Regions from separate parts of the Homo sapiens genome. Here regions 1 and 3 are each linked to region 2. Evidence: fine-mapped expression QTL. A gene starts in region 2. Each other region holds a variant in brackets. All regions are shown on one strand. Distances are from middle to middle. Region 1 overlaps LOC124901744 (a long non-coding RNA gene). Region 2 holds the start of LEP (leptin). Region 3 has its middle 22 kb from the start of LEP.

Evidence for each region. PIP is the estimated chance that this variant, and not a neighbour inherited with it, causes the effect.
Region 1: its variant is fine-mapped to the expression of LEP in whole blood (TOPMed, PIP above 0.99).
Region 3: its variant is fine-mapped to the expression of LEP in whole blood (TOPMed, PIP above 0.99).

The regions. Positions count from the first base shown.
Region 1 is chr7:128,214,629-128,219,852 of GRCh38, forward strand. The region is part of intron 1 of LOC124901744 (a long non-coding RNA gene); the gene reads left to right. Among named protein-coding and RNA genes, the nearest start is that of MIR129-1, 9.4 kb to the left of the region's middle. The variant A/G (reference allele first, on the strand shown) is at 2,645.
Region 2 is chr7:128,239,082-128,244,305 of GRCh38, forward strand. LEP (leptin) reads left to right here and starts at 2,197. Exons shown (of 3, transcript NM_000230.3): 1 at 2,197-2,225. RefSeq lists promoters at 1-2,225, 1,979-2,225, cis regulatory regions at 246-651, 2,143-2,151 and enhancers at 246-651, 251-310, 288-323.
Region 3 is chr7:128,260,985-128,266,208 of GRCh38, forward strand. No RefSeq gene overlaps it. Among named protein-coding and RNA genes, the nearest start is that of LEP, 22 kb to the left of the region's middle. RefSeq lists an enhancer at 1,313-1,813. The variant A/G (reference allele first, on the strand shown) is at 2,797.

The sequences.
Region 1 (5,224 bases), 24 kb before region 2:
GAAAAAAGGAAGAAAAAGAGGAAGAAAGGAAGAAAAAAAGAAAAAAGGAAGAAAAAGAAGAAGAAAGGAAGAAAAAAAGAAAGAAAGAAAGAAAAAAGAAAGAAGGAAGGAAGGAAGAGAGAGAGAGAAAGAAAGAAAAAACCTTACAGACACAGTTGAAGTCTTTGTGCCCCTTTTCCTTCCTCCAACTGTCCTGAAGTTGGTAGGTATTCTCACACTGGTGCTCATACTTTACCATATATGTATTACTCGTAAATTACACCTAGCATTGCTTTGAGTGCTTCTTAATTTATGTAAGTGATGTCACACTAAACCCACCATTCTGGAACCTACTTTTTTTTCAGCTAAATTGTGTTTCCAAGATCGGTCCATGTTGATGCATGATACATTCATTTTTACTGCTGAATAACATGAAACTGTACAAAGATACCACAATCCATCCACTCACCTACTAATAGACATTTGTTTCCAGTTTTTCACCATCACAAATGATTCTGCAGTGGACATCCTTGAACATGCTTCTGTAGAGTAGACCCCTACAAGTGGTGTTGCTGGGCCGCAGGGAAGATGCGTTCCAGTTATTAGACATGCTGTCAATTTACTCGCTAGCTTGGCTGAGCCAGTTCACGCTTGTGCCAGCAGCAGACAAAACAACTGAAAATGTTATTTATTCAGTGTGCTCTTGGATTGGGCTCTCTTCTGAATGCAAAACCAATTATAAGGATTTTCTCTAGTTCGTTCCCGACCTTTGTTCTCCAATTCTACTTTCCCTTAAAGTCTTAAATTCTTTAGCCATAAATTCTTCTACAACTAGGGTTTTCCAGAATCTGACCTAGTGGCCAAGAAGAAATGACTGGTATGTGTGTTACAGGATGGAGTCGGGTATGTGTGTGTATGTGTGTGTGTGTCTGTGTTTGTAGCTTTGTACCAAAGCCAACAAGAAAGAACTGGAAGGACAAGACTTTCCATAGCATCTTTTAAATGATGCATCAAACCCAGGAAAGAGGGGTAACCAGTGTGACCCAGAATCCACTCTCAAGCTATAGGTCCTTTCCTCCCCCTCTTATTTGTTGGGGGTCAAGGGGGAGTTGTCCCAGGACATTACTCTGTGGCTCCATCTTCCCTGCTCCCCAAACCCACCAGACTCCAGACACTTCTCTAAGCTGTGTAAACCTAGGGGTGAGGGAAAGAGGTACTCTGTGCAGAGGAGGGGCAGCCCCATGTGTTCATCTGGGGTAAAGGGCTGACTTTTGGCCCCAGGCCTAAGAGCTCTCTGTCCATGCCAAAGATTCCTCCTGCATCTGGGCCTGTGGGGTTGGGAGAGCTGCCAAAATCCTAGACTGGGCAGTGACAGTGGAGAGCCTATATCTTGGCCACTGAGCCGATTCCTCAGCCCCAGGACCATACAGAAGTTGTCTGGAATTCCTTCCCTCACAGGCCCTGAAGCAGGAGCCTCCAAGGCCTCTGAAGTTGACTTGAGAAAAGGGGATGGGGGGATAAGGAGGGGGATAGGGATTCAAGGGACCACCACAAAGTTGCCTAGCTCAAACCAAAGACATTTCAAGAGGCAGGAACCTGAAGTGAATGAAAAAGCACAATTCACAGTTAAGCGAGAGTAGGGAGGGCCCTGACCCAAAGACTATTTTTGTGTTTTTTGTTTGTTTTTTAGGGTTTTTTTGAGATAGGGTCTCACTCTGTCACCCAGGCTGGAGTGCAGTGGTGCAATCACAGCTCACTGCAGCCTCCACTTCCGAGGCTCAAGCAATCCTCCTGCCTCAGCCTCCCCATAGCAGGGACCACAGGCACACACCACCACACCCGGCTAATTTTTAAATTTTTTTGTAGAGAAGGGATCTTGCTATGTTGCCCAGGCTGGTTCAAACTCCTGGGCTCAAGCAATCCTCCTGCCTTGGCCTCCCAAAGTGCTGGGATTACAGGAGTGAGCCACTACTCCTTTCTTTCTTTCCAACAGAAAGACTATTTTTGGATGGGATTTCTCCCCCAGCAAACACTTGAAGTGTGACCTACAGGAGTTGTTTGTTTGGAGGGGGGCATTTGTCCTTTATCAAAAAGATGAAACCTGGTTGGGTGTGAGTTTCTTGCCTGTAATCCCAGCACTCTGGGAGGCTGAGGCAGGAGGACTGCTTGAGGCCAGGAGTTTAAGACCAGCCTGGGCAACATAGGGAGACCCTGTATCAACAACAACAAAAAATTAAAAATTAGCCAAGCATGGTGGTGCACACCTGTAGTCCCAGCTACTCAGGAGGCTGAAGTGGGAGGATCTCTTGAGCCCAGGAGAACGAGGCTGCAGTGAGCCATGATCACACCACTGCACTTCAGCCTGGGCAAGAGAGTGAGACCGTATCCCAAAAAGGAAAACGATAAAGCATGAACATCTTGGCGTCCTTGTTCCACAGACTCCTTTTGGCCCAGAACAGTCTGCCCTTTGGGCAGCAGGTGGCTTGCTTCAGCCTGGAGGCCAGGAGGCCTACTCAGGCGCCCAGGGCGATTCACCAAGGGACCTCACCTCTGAGCCCCGCCTACCACCCAATGAGGACGCGCGGACATGACGTCACTGCATCCTGTTGCCCAGCCCAGACCAGGAGAATGGGACAAGCTGGAGAAAAGAGCCAGTGGAAGTGCC[A/G]GATGCCAAGAGAGAAGTTGGGGGAAAAAATGGTGGAGGGCAAATGAGTCAGCAGCAAGTTTAAGCAATGAACCATTGCATCACGGGGTGTTTCTCAAATTCTTGTCTACTTTTAGAAAAAGTACGCAATGACATTCAGTGGGCATCTTGATTCTGAAATAGCTAAAGAAAATGTTAAAAATGCAGTGGGTGAAGATGTGCCCACATTAACCTCTTTTCTAAAACAACAGTTGACAATTGTGCTACATGTCCTTAAGCAAATCTTTTAGCCTGCCTGTTCCTTAGTTTCCTCATCTGTGACATGAGGGGAATGTATGAAAAATATCTCTGGAGATTCCTTCCAGTCTAACATTCTGTGGTTTGATGATTGATACTATGCTCACATTCTTAATACTCAGGCTGTGTCTACACAGTGCCAAGACAACTAGCTAATTCAGTGAGTATGGACAAAATGTTCTTCCAATCAATTCTTTGGCACGCTGTAGACAAATTGGCACTTCTTTTCATTTTACAACTGGTTGCTCCGGCTTCTTCTTGACCAGTGCTTCTTCAATGGTGGTATCCTGACATGCTGTATGCCTGGAGCACTTAGGAGGTGTGTCCTAGGCAGTTGGCTATGGATAATGAACTGTTGAGGTTCTCAAATCGTTGATGACTTTTTTTTAATCAATTAGAACAGATTCAATATGGTCCTATAGTAATGCCCCTGCTGCTTAGTTGCAATCCGATATGCCTCCCTGAAAGGAAGAAGTGGTGGAATTACAGCTGCCGGACAGAGACTGCCTGTAGCCCTGACCCTGTTGGATGCCCATGGGAGGGTGTCATGTGTTGTGCATGTGAATGTCATTTATCATCTGCAACACAGCACTTGAGAATGACTGATGGAAACCCCTGAGACATGGTCGGACATCAAGGCACTGGAGACTCAGGCCCTGGAGAAATCTGAGCCAGCATCCTATGACGCAGGTGCAAACCAGGAAGAGTACAGAATGGAGGGCCTGTTCATTATGCCTGTCTCTTGGTCCAAAATGAATGATTTCACCATAATCTGTTCATAGCTGGGGAAGGAAAGGGGGCGTGAAATAGCGTTTATTAATCATGTAGGGGCCAAGCCCAGTGCCAGACACTCGTGGCAGGTTTTAGTGTTGCTCGCCATGTACTTTTTATTCTCAGCTGTCCAGGGGGATTACACTTCCTCCCTCTTGTGGTTTGGAAGAGTAATGTAAAATTCTGGCCAATGGGTTGTGGGTAGAAGTGACATGTACCAACTGAATGCCAGGGCATTTCGCTGATAGTTTTAGACCCTCCAGAGCTCCCTCTCCCTCTAGCATGGGAACTGGCAACAGTCTGGTGGCTCTTCCATCACCAGCTGGAATCCTGGAATACTAGGAAACCGAGCTCCGAGAAGAGACATGAGGCGTGTGTATCATGCATTGCACGTGAGGATGGAGTAAAACTTTGTTGTTGTAAGCCACCAAGATTTTCAGGCTGCCTATAACTGCAGCACAACCTAATTTTGTGCTGTCTGATGCCATGTTTTATATAACATGGTAGTGTAGTAGAAAAATGTGAGCCTTAGAGTTTAAAATGCTGGGCACGATGTCTCACGCCTGTAATCCCAGAATTTTGGGAGGCCAAGGTGGGAGGATGGTTTGAGCCTGGGAGTTCGAGACCAGCCTGGGCAACATAGTGAGACTCCATTTTATTTTACTTTTTAAAAAAATAAAATAACAATTTAAAAAATAGAGATTAAAAGACATGAGCTAAAACCTAAACACTCACTGACTGTGAGCAAATCTGTTAGCTTCTTTGAGTCTCAGTTTCTTCATCTATAAAATGGCACGATGTTTTTATTAGGTTCGGAAATAATATTTAAAAATATCTAGCACAGGATTTGGCACATAGTAGATGCTCAGTTACAATGATTATAATTTCATGTATTCCTCAAAATAATACTATGAGTAAAGAGAGGGTATGGGTGTAAGAGAAAGGATAGTCATTACTGATGTTTCAAATGCCGTCATACACTATGGAGAACACTGACCAGGGACCCCAAGGGTAGGGGAAGGTTTGAAGTCATCTGTGTCCACCCTCCCCTGAACTCAGAGAAGTCCTAGAAGGGAGAGAAGGCCTGAAGACACCATTTACAATTTAGCCTTTCCACTGCCAGAGGAAAAGCAGATTCTACTTATGGTAGTGACTATTGACACCTTCAGCATATAAAATAAGAATATAGCAGTGGAGTGAGTTAGTGTCCCTGTTAGTTTCACTGAAGCTTGTTATCCTAGCAAAGCGCCAGCCAAGGTCTTTCCCAAAGGCGCAATGAACTAAACTCTTCTCTGAAATCAGCTTATTAGTATTATCATGACCACTTCAGCTAGCTCACCCAGGACCTGGGAATGAGCTGGAGAGTGAACTACAGAGGAAGGGAGAGAAAGAGAATATCCTCAAGGCAGCAGGGGATTGAGGGGTCCTTTGTCTCCTCCTGCTTCCCAGCAAGTCTTGCCTGATGGAGGAACAAGAGCAGTCAGAGGACGGGGTGGGGAAATTCCAATTCTGTGTGTCCTTCCTTCACCATGC
Region 2 (5,224 bases):
AAGACAACTATAAGGTCTGACTGCCTGCGGGGTCGGGCAAAGGGAGCCATATTTTTCTTCTTGCAGAGAGCCTATAAATAGACCTGCAAGTAGGAGAGATATTGCTAATTTCTTTTGCTAGCATGGAATATTAATATTAACACCCTGGGAAAGGAATGCATTCCTGGGGGGAGGTCTATAAATGGCCGCTCTGGGAATGTCTATCCTACGCAATGGAGATAAGGACTGAGATACGCCCTGGTCTCCTGCAGTACCCTCAGGCTTACTAGGGTGGTGAAAAACTCCGCCCTGGTAAATTTGTGGTCAGACCAGTTTTCTGCTCTCGAACACTGTTTTCTGTTGTTTAAGATGTTTATCAAGACAATACGTGCACCGCTGAACACAGACCCTTATCAGTAGTTCTCCTTTTTGCCCTTTGAAGCATGTGATCTACTCCCTGTTTTACACCCCCTCACCTTTTGAAACCCTTAATAAAAAACTTGCTGGTTTGAGGCTCAGGTGGGCATCACAGTACTACCGATATGTGATGTCACCCCCGGCGGCCCAGCTGTAAAATTCCTCTCTTTGTACTCTCTCTCTTTATTTCTCAGCCAGCTGACACTTATGGAAAATAGAAAGAACCTACGTTGAAATATTGGGGGCAGGTTCCCCCAATATCTGGTGCCCAACGTGGGATACTGAGATTACAAGCATGAGCCACTGCATCTGGCCTCTTCTTTTGATTTTTTTTTTTCAAACTTTTACAAATGTAGAAACCATTCTTAGCTTTTGGGCATTACCAAACCCGGCAGTGGCAGGCTCGGTTCACCAACGTCATTTGCAGTTCCCCGCTTTATGTTATGGGTTTTGTTTTGTTTTGTTTTTTTTATTGAGACAGAGTTTCACTCTTGTTGCCCAGGCTGTAGTGCAATGGTCTGATCTTGGCTCACTGCAACCTCCACTTCCCAGGTTCAAGCCATTCTCCTGCCTCAGCCTCTCAAGTAGCTGGGATTACAGACACTCACCACCACACCTGGCTAATTTTGTATTTTTAGTAGAGATGAGGTTTCACCATGTTGGCCAGGCTGGTCTCGAAATCCTGACCTCAGGTGATCCACCCACCTTGGCCTCCCAAAGTGCTGGGATTACAGGCTTGAGCTACCACGCCTGGCTGGGTTGGTTCTCAATGGAGTGGTTTGTTTTTGGAGCTGCTCTGCGCAGTGGGGACCAGAATAGGCCTGGGTTCCTAGCCCATTGCTATTCCTTACCAGCTGTGGATTCTAAGGAAAGTCATTTAACCTCGCTGGACCTTAGATTCCTCATCCCTGAAGCCCAAGGGTAAAACAAAACAAAACAAAACAAAACAAACCAACCCATCATGTAAAGCGGGGAACTACAAACGATACAGGTGAAACATGCCTACCACACCACTCACAGGCTATGATGACAAAAACGTGGCTACATCTGGGACCACCCCCCAACCCCCACTTTGTACGTAGGAAATACGGAGTTGAGGATGGAGACCCACAGTATGTCCAGAGTGTCCCCAAAGGCCACAGTGCCCGCCTGGAGCCCTCCAGAGAGCGTGCACTCCCTGGGGTGCCAGCCAGAGACAACTTGCCCTGAGGCTTGGAACTCGATTCTCCGCGTGCCAGAGAAGGGGTGGGACTTCAGAACCCCCAACCCCGCAATCTGGGTCGGGGAGCCTGGCGCACTGCGGGCCGCTCCCTCTAACCCTGGGCTTCCCTGGCGTCCAGGGCCGTCGGGGCCGAGTCCCGATTCGCTCCCACCCCGAAGCCGCGCCAGGACCAACGAGGGCGCAGCCGTATGCCCCAGCCCGCTCCGCGGAGCCCCTCACAGCCACCCCCGCCCCGACCGCGCCCCGCGCGGCTCGAAGCACCTTCCCAAGGGGCTGGTCCTTGCGCCATAGTCGCGCCGGAGCCTCTGGAGGGACATCAAGGATTTCTCGCTCCTACCAGCCACCCCCAAATTTTTGGGAGGTACCCAAGGGTGCGCGCGTGGCTCCTGGCGCGCCGAGGCCCTCCCTCGAGGCCCCGCGAGGTGCACACTGCGGGCCCAGGGCTAGCAGCCGCCCGGCACGTCGCTACCCTGAGGGGCGGGGCGGGAGCTGGCGCTAGAAATGCGCCGGGGCCTGCGGGGCAGTTGCGCAAGTTGTGATCGGGCCGCTATAAGAGGGGCGGGCAGGCATGGAGCCCCGTAGGAATCGCAGCGCCAGCGGTTGCAAGGTAAGGCCCCGGCGCGCTCCTTCCTCCTTCTCTGCTGGTCTTTCTTGGCAGGCCACAGGGCCCCACACAACTCTGGATCCCGGGGAAACTGAGTCAGGAGGGATGCAGGGCGGATGGCTTAGTTCTGGACTATGATAGCTTTGTACCGAGTTCTAGCCAGATAGAAGGTTACCGGGAGCTGGGGAGCGTTGGATTTGCTGCTGGGCTGTGCCGGTGCCCAGAAGGCAGGACCTTGCAGAACCAGCCAGGTCCCTGGGAGACTGTCAGACCCACCAACCTGGTGGCATTCGCAGAGCTGAGATGCATTGGAAATTGCCTTGGGCACATCCCCAAAGATCAGGATGTCCCACCCCAGTCTGAAGGAGATAAAGTTGGGGGTAGGAGAGACGCAGATGCAAGTGATCAGTCTCAGTCCCAGACATTGCCTTGCTCTGCGGGTAGGAATTCAGGATTCATTTTCCAGGGAAGTTCCTGACCTCTGAATGAGAGGGGCTGTGTAAGGCCAATGCCTGGGAGGAAGGCAAGGATGAGTAGAGGTGGGGGGAAACAAGTGTCAGGAAGACTCAAAATCTTCCAGAGAAATTGTGCAGGGTCTTACCAGATCTGTCCTCAAAGCCATGCAAATTGCCTTCTTTGCAATGCATACAATGAGGTGTCTCTGGGGGTCAGAACTGGTTATTAGGGAACTTCTAGCCAGGACTGCTAAATACGCGCTGTTGGCCCACCAGGCTCACCTATAGCCTTCCTTCAGTCTGGGCTTGGTTTGGATTTCACTGTGGGTGCCATCGCCTTTACACTCCTGTTTCTATAGTTTAAAGATAGTGGTGCTTTGGGAAAGTGACTCCTTAAATACAGTTAGGTCCAAGTGAGACAAGTGGCCTGGCTGTCATTTCAGAATAGCAGCTTCCAAGAGGTGATTAATTTCTGTTGGAAGGGTGATCTTTGGGGAGGTGGGTGAAGAGCAGAGACTTGGTGGTACCGTTCCAGGAGCACAGGCTCTCTTCCTTTGCAGTGCAGAATGACCTCTGGCAGCCGGAGTTGTGTTTGTTCTGTAGGATTCTGAGGTGGGCCATGGGCAGCTGGAACTGGGGAATTTTGCCAATCTCTTTCATATTAGGATTGTCTGCAGAACCAGATATGGAGGCTTCTAGCAACGTGAGTGCTCCTGTTCTAATGCCCTTAGAAACAAGAAGGCCACACTGATCATTTCTCTCACTTAGGCAGGGAGACAAGGCAAGAGAGAAACAGTGGATGCTTTTAGGTTCTTTCCCTTCCCAAGCAGTTGTGGACATTGGGCTGAGGGGAACATTTCCACATTGGCTAAAGGAGCGTCCTCCTCATATTTTGTACATTTTATACCCAAAATAACTCTTCTTGGTATTTGGGGAAATATTTTCCTCCCCGTCCATTCCAGGAAATGGCTCCAAGTGCCAAGGACAGAGCCAGGGAAGTTGCAATGAATTCCTGCCCGTCAGCCCCAGGCAGATGCCTTGCACGTCTGAGTGGCCCATGCAGAGCGTGGAGGTGGCCGCCACGGAACCTGGGTCAATGTCCCACCCCCGCTTAGATGCCACCAGGGGCGTGGGAGCCAAGGAGAGAAGAGGGGCTCCAGGAAGGTAGAGTCCTTGTGTCTTGTGCATCTGTGAACAGCACTGGTATGATTTAAAGGAAAATTGAGCCAAATTTTCCGGCAGTCAGTTACCCCATCCCCACCGGGGTAGGAGTCTGGCAGCCGCAGCTCCATTCTGGCCAGTCGGCAGAGAGCCTTGAAATTCTTCTTTGTCCACACAGTTGTCTCAGAGAAACAGAGAGGTTGTTTCTGCTTAAAAACAACACACTTGGTGTCTGGGCCCACAGACTCCTTTGCACTTATTCCACGTGTGACAGCCAATGTGCCTCGTTGCTTAGCAGACAGCATGTTACCGTCTTTCCTGCTCAGTTTGTTAGCTCTATGGAATGGAATTTATAATCAATGCCCATACCAACATTTCACTAATATCATAGGAGATTTAGTCTCCATCTGGGTGTACATTACATTTGCTCTGGGGTGCTCCAGGCTGGGGGGTTGCCAAGGAAGAGAAGAGAAACCGCAGAGAAGACGGGAGGGCAGGGCAGGGGTCTCTGAGAAGGGGAGGGGTCCCAGAGTGCAGGAGCAGGAGCCAGGCTCATGAAAGGGGCCACGGGCGGGAGTATCCAGGGACGGCAGTCAAGATGGAGCACAGCTTAGGAAGCTGAAGGGAATCCTGGCCCACCTGGGTGCTAGAGGGCACATAGGAAGTGCAGGAAGCAGACCAAGGTCCCCAAGAGAGGGAGACCTGGACGCTGAAGCATTTTCTGTCTTTATTAAGACAACTCCGTAAGAATTCCTGCTGGGCCAAAGTGAATTCTAGGATGCGACTTTAAGATGGGAGCAAGCGAACCATTGAGGAGGCAGGTTACCCTAGTTAGCCAATGCAGATCGAGAATGGGAAATCTTTCATTTATTCATGCAACAGATATTTAACGAAGCCCTGCCGTGTTCCAGGCCTGTGATAGATGCTGGAACAGGTACAGAGATACAGGTGTCATTAATTGATCAGGGCAACCTCTCCTTCTGAGTCTTGCTGGAGCTTCAGATGCCCCTCACACAGAGCTCGAGGGAGCCTCAACAATTGATCAGAAGTCAGGCACCATGGCTCACGCATATAATCCCAGCACTTTGGGAGGCCAAGGCAGGTGGATCACTGGAGCCCAGGAGTTCCAGATCAGCTGGGGCAACATGGCAAAACCCCATCTCTATTAAAAAAAAAAAAAGTAACTGGATGTGATGGTACACACCTGTAGTCCCAGCTACTTGGGAGGCTGAGAGGTGGGAGAATTGCTTGAGCCCGGGAAGTCGGGGGTCCAGTGAGCCTTGATCACACCACTGCACTCCAGCCTGAGTGACAGAGCAAGACCCTGACACACACACACACACACACACACACACACACACAGATTAGAGCTGAAACAGGAGTAGA
Region 3 (5,224 bases), 22 kb after region 2:
TATATATACATGTAGAAATACAAAGACAGAGATTGATAGATATTTCTTTACTTGCCCCATCTGTGCCCCAAACACATACACACAGAGATTTCCAGCCGTTTTCTGCTTGCCCACCCATCCCCACCTCTCCCCAGAGGGACATCCATTAGGAAATGCACTTGCAGGCCATGTCTCTATCCTAATGTTGTTTTTTGTTTGTTCTTATTGTGCTTATTTGTTTGGTTTAGTGATGGAGTCTCACTCTGTCACCCAGACTGGAGTGCAGTGGTGCCATTATAGCTCACTGCAGCCTCAAACTCCTGGGCTCAAGCGATCCTCCCACCTCAGACTCCTGAATGGATGGAACTACAGGAACATGCCACCATGCCTGGCTAAGTTTTTTTTTTTTTTAGAGATGGGGTCTTGCTATGTTGCCCAGGCTGGTCTCAAACCCTTGGCCTTAAGTGATCCTCCCATTTCACCCTCCCAAAGTGCTGGGAAGTGTCCTAAAGTTGAGGAGCTTACAGCCTGGGTTGACTGTACACACACACACACACACACACACACACACACATATGCACACACACACAGAACTGGCTCCAGGGCTCACCCACAGGTCTGCCCACCTTCCCCACCAGCACTGCCGGAAGCCCCCTCCATTAGTCTCCTGTCCTGCTCCTTCTCTGAGATGAAGAGCTCTTTAAATCATGGTCATTGTGGCTGGGTGCGGTGGCTCACAAATGTAATCCCAGCACTTTGGGAGGGCAAGGTGGGTGGATGACCTGAGGTCAGGAGTTCGAGACCAGCCTGGCCAAATGGCAAAACCCCGTCTCTACTAAAAATACAAAAATTAGCCAAGAGTGGTGGCACATACCTGTAATCCAAGCTACTTGGGAGGCTGAGGTGGGAGAATCACTTGAACCTGGGAGGCAGAGGCTATAGTGAGCCAAGATCTCGCCACTGCACTCCAGCCTGGGTGACACAGGGAGACTCCGTCTCAACAACAACAACAAAAAAAAATCATAGTCATTTTTTTCCTGTTCCTCATCCCATCCACTCGTCTTCATTTTCATATATTTTACTTGTACATTTGTTTATTAATATCTACCCCATAAGAATGTAGGCTCTGCCAGGCGCAGTGGCTCACTCCTATAATCCCAACACTTTGGGAGGCTGAGGCACGTGGATCACCTGAGGTCAGGAGTTTAGAACCAGCATGGCCAACATGTATCTACTAAAAATACAAAAAAATTAGCCGGGCATGATGGTGGGCGCCTGTAATCCCAGCTGCTCGGGAGGATGAGGCAGGAGAATCGCTTGAACCTGGGAGGCAGAGGTTGCCGTGAGCCGAGATTGCGCCATTGCACTCCAGCCTGGGCAACAAGAGCGAAACTCCATCTCAAAAAAAAAAAGAATGTAGGCTCCCAGCAGGCAGGGATTGTCTTTTGGTCTGTTTTGTTTCCCGCTAGATCCCCAGCATCTAGGCTAGATCCTTACACAGAGTAGGTACAACCTGTTGGCTGAATGGGTCTCTAACCTCAAGAGCTGATGCCCCATGTCCCCTTTGCATTTGGGTACAAAGAAGTGGCATGAGGGGAAGTGGAATGCTCAGCAGTCTGTCCACTTAGAGGATTCCAAGCCAGATATGGTTGCCAAAGTCCTGTCATGTGGACAAGACTGGAGGGAGATTGGGGATCAACAGGTAGAATGTGGCAGAAGGCAAGCTTTGGCTTAGTCGTACCATCAGAACTACTCTCCGATAGGAGGGCCAGCTGGGGCAGGCTGTGGGCAGATTGCTGTGGCAATGGCGCCCAGGTGTGACCCCTGCCTTCTGGTGTCCGCCCTCGATGTAGGCTCCCCACAACACTGACACTGGGCTTGGCCACGTGACCTGCTTGCCACAGTGGGACAACAGCAAACAAGACACAAGCAAAGGTTGGAAAAGTGCTTGCCCATGGGGGCTTGTCCTCTCTCGCTGCAGGGAAATCTTCAGCCACTATGCGAAGGAGCCCAGACTAGCCTCCAAGAGGATAAGCGACCCTGTGGAGAGAGGCCCCAGCCCCAGCCATCCCAGCTGTATTAGTTGGTCTTTTTTTTTTTCCTATATTTTCTGATGCTGTGACATCTTGGAACCTCACTGACACTGCAGGGACCGATCCTCCCAGGGTTAGCTAATTCCCAGAGATAGCAAACAGCTCAAGGGGTGCATACCTTTCAAATGCAAACCAACCAATCTAGAGCCCACACCCCAACCACCTCCTCTATTGGGCTGTCATACTCAGGGCCACTATCCCCTACCCTAATCTTCCCAGGGCCAGGTACCAGACAACTAGAGCCAGCCCCCATGCTCCAGAGCCCACTGAAATTACTCAAACTAGCCAATCCTAAACTTGCTTACCCTCACTTGCCTTGCTTTTCCTATGCAGTTGAACCAGTATTCAAACCATGTCAACGGGAATCATTCTCCATCTCAGCTTTGTTTCCTTTGGCATTGGCTTTATTCTTAGACGGTGGCAAAAGTGATCATCAAAAACTCCAGTCCTATACCTTCCAGGTTGGCAACTCCCCAGGAAAAAGAGCTCTCCTTCCTAAATGTTCCGGCAAAAGCCCCAGAGCTGACTCCCATTGGTCTGGCTTGAATCACATGTCTATTGCTGAGCCAATCACTGGGACCAGGAAAATGCAGTACTCTGATTGGTTAGATTTGAGTCGAACCAAGGAAGGGGTCAATTGCACTTGGAATGAGAATGGGGATAGGGTAGTTTCCCAAAGGAAAAGAGGGTGTGTTACCAAAAAGCAGGAGAAATGGGTCTTGGG[A/G]AGGAAGAAACAACAGATTTCCTCCAGGAATGCTCTGAGCCTTTCTTTCCTGGCCTGTCTGATTCCTGACAGCTTTCTGGAACCTTGTCTCAGTCTGGATTTCTTTCTGAGAGAAGGAAGAGACTCACTCCCTTTGACCCTTTACTTTTGTATTGAGAACCAAAACCAGCTCTGACTGGCTCTTAACTTCAACCACACGGCATCAAATAAAAAATAATGTTTGACCCCGGACTTAGAAAAGGGTGGAGTGATTGTCCTTGGCTCTGACAACTGCTTCTGATAAGTATGAAGAACATTTTTGTTACTGGTTATAGTGGATTGGGGCTTGATATTAAGTCATCCAAATTGTTATTGCTCTCATTGGGGTTATTTTACTGGTCTTTCTGCTTTGTCGGGGGGTCATTCTTTTCCACTGGGAAATTTGTTCTTTTTTTCTTCCCTTTTAATGGAGGTCGTGTTGTTGACACCTTATGTTGTAGGGATGGCTGTTCTGATTGCTTTACAAAAAGCGTAATGATCAGAAGGATTCCTTACAGCAGAACAGCACCTTGCCATCTATAAAGCACTTTCACACACGTTATTACATTTGATCTCTACAATAAGCAGCATTGAGGAGAACAAATAGTATTATATCCACTTTCTATAGATATGGAAATAGACCCAGAGAGGTTAAGTGACTGGTTACAGGTCACAGAGCTATGTTGCCTTAGGTAGCAGGAAAATATTGGCAAGGAATAAGCAGGCATTTATTCAAGGCTTGATTTATTTAACAAGATAAGGCTTTATTGTTACAAAGTTCATCAGGGCTCAACTCCCCAGCTCCCTTCTTATTTTGGTACACAAACTACATAGCTCCAAAGGGACACACACACACATGCACGCACACACACACACACCCTGGGCCACCAATAGCCAAGGCTAGAGCCCAGCCAAGCATGTCAGCATGCAGGCTCACCCACAAGCAGGTCTGGGAGATGCAGGCCTGGCTCATGGGCAGGTGCCCAGGAGCCCACAGCTTGGTTCAGTCCTCCCGCAGAGCTCCTCACCCAACCCAGCACCTTCTCTCCTCAAAGGGGGTGGTGGCTGGGGCTATGGGTAGGGCTGGGGCTTTGTCAGGAGGGAGGAGGCAAGTCTGGGAGGGTCTGGGGAGCTGGGGAAATTTCCTGAATGGAAACTCCAGGCTGATATGCTGGGGACATTCCTTCCAGGGACTCTCCTCTCCCTCCACATCCTTGCCTTTTCTCTCTGTGCCTGAACCCTGGACAGAAAATGAGTAGACTTTATGGGTCACGTGGAAACCAAGGGGTAGGGCTCACCCACAAGCAGGTCACAAGACAAAAGCAGAGAGCAAGGTCACCAGAGTAGGTGCTATCTCCACTGTCCCTCCTGTCATGGGAAGAAGGGCCTCCGGGAAGCCGGGAAGCCCCCCACAACACCTCTTGCTGTGGTCCTAGGAACCTCCAGGCAATCCTCTCTGTTCCAACACTCTGCCTGTGTCCTAACAAACAAGGTAAGTGGCAACTCCTGCAGAAGTGGGCCCTGACCCTGACCCTGTCATCTCACCTCTGGGACTCATTGTGGAAGTCCTGGGCATTCAGCATGACAGACTGGCCAGTGGGGAAGTGACCCAGCCCCAGAGCTCTCTGGGAAACCTCTGCATTGGCCCCTGACCCCACCCTGGGGTTTTCATAGATCCAAGCACCTTCCCAGCATCCAGGTGAAAGGCCCAGCGCTTATTAAACCCTGCCCAACCTGGCCTGGATGCTTCCTGGATGTGCACTGCTGGGAGACTTCTATTCTGGAAGATCCTGTCACAAAGAAGAATAGGAAATGCCAGAAACTCATCTATCTGATAGGATTTGTTTTTCCCCATAGGAGAAAAACCCAATCACACCATCTCCCACTTGGAACAACTGCAATTACCCACTCCCCGTAAGTGGAAGAACACCAGGGCTAATCAAATGACACCACTCCGGGAAGCCAATGGCTCCCAGTACCAATCTTTTTGAAAAGCCCATATGGAAAGCTACAAATTCTATTTGTCTTGTCTGGGGGGGAAATGAGTTTTAAATATGTTGAATCAAAAATGATATATACCAGACACTAGTGATCCAGAACAAACGCCTTGGGAGAAAAACTACTCTGAAAACGTTCAGTATTCAGGTTGCCAAAGAACTGGGAATTTAGGCTGAAATATACAAGCACAGAACATTCACACTGGACAGCCACATGTCCCTTACCAGGCCCGGATGGAATTGGTCCTCAGACAGAGCCCTGGTTCCTTCCTGAGCACTGGCCTCAGCAGCTTCCCCCAGGGACACTCCCTGCCACCTCCTGGTGAGCTTCAATGTCTTCCTGCTGGGCCAGGCTGCCGAGGCCTGAAGATCTCGGGTCCACCCTATGCAGCCAGCCTGACCGGGTTGAGGAA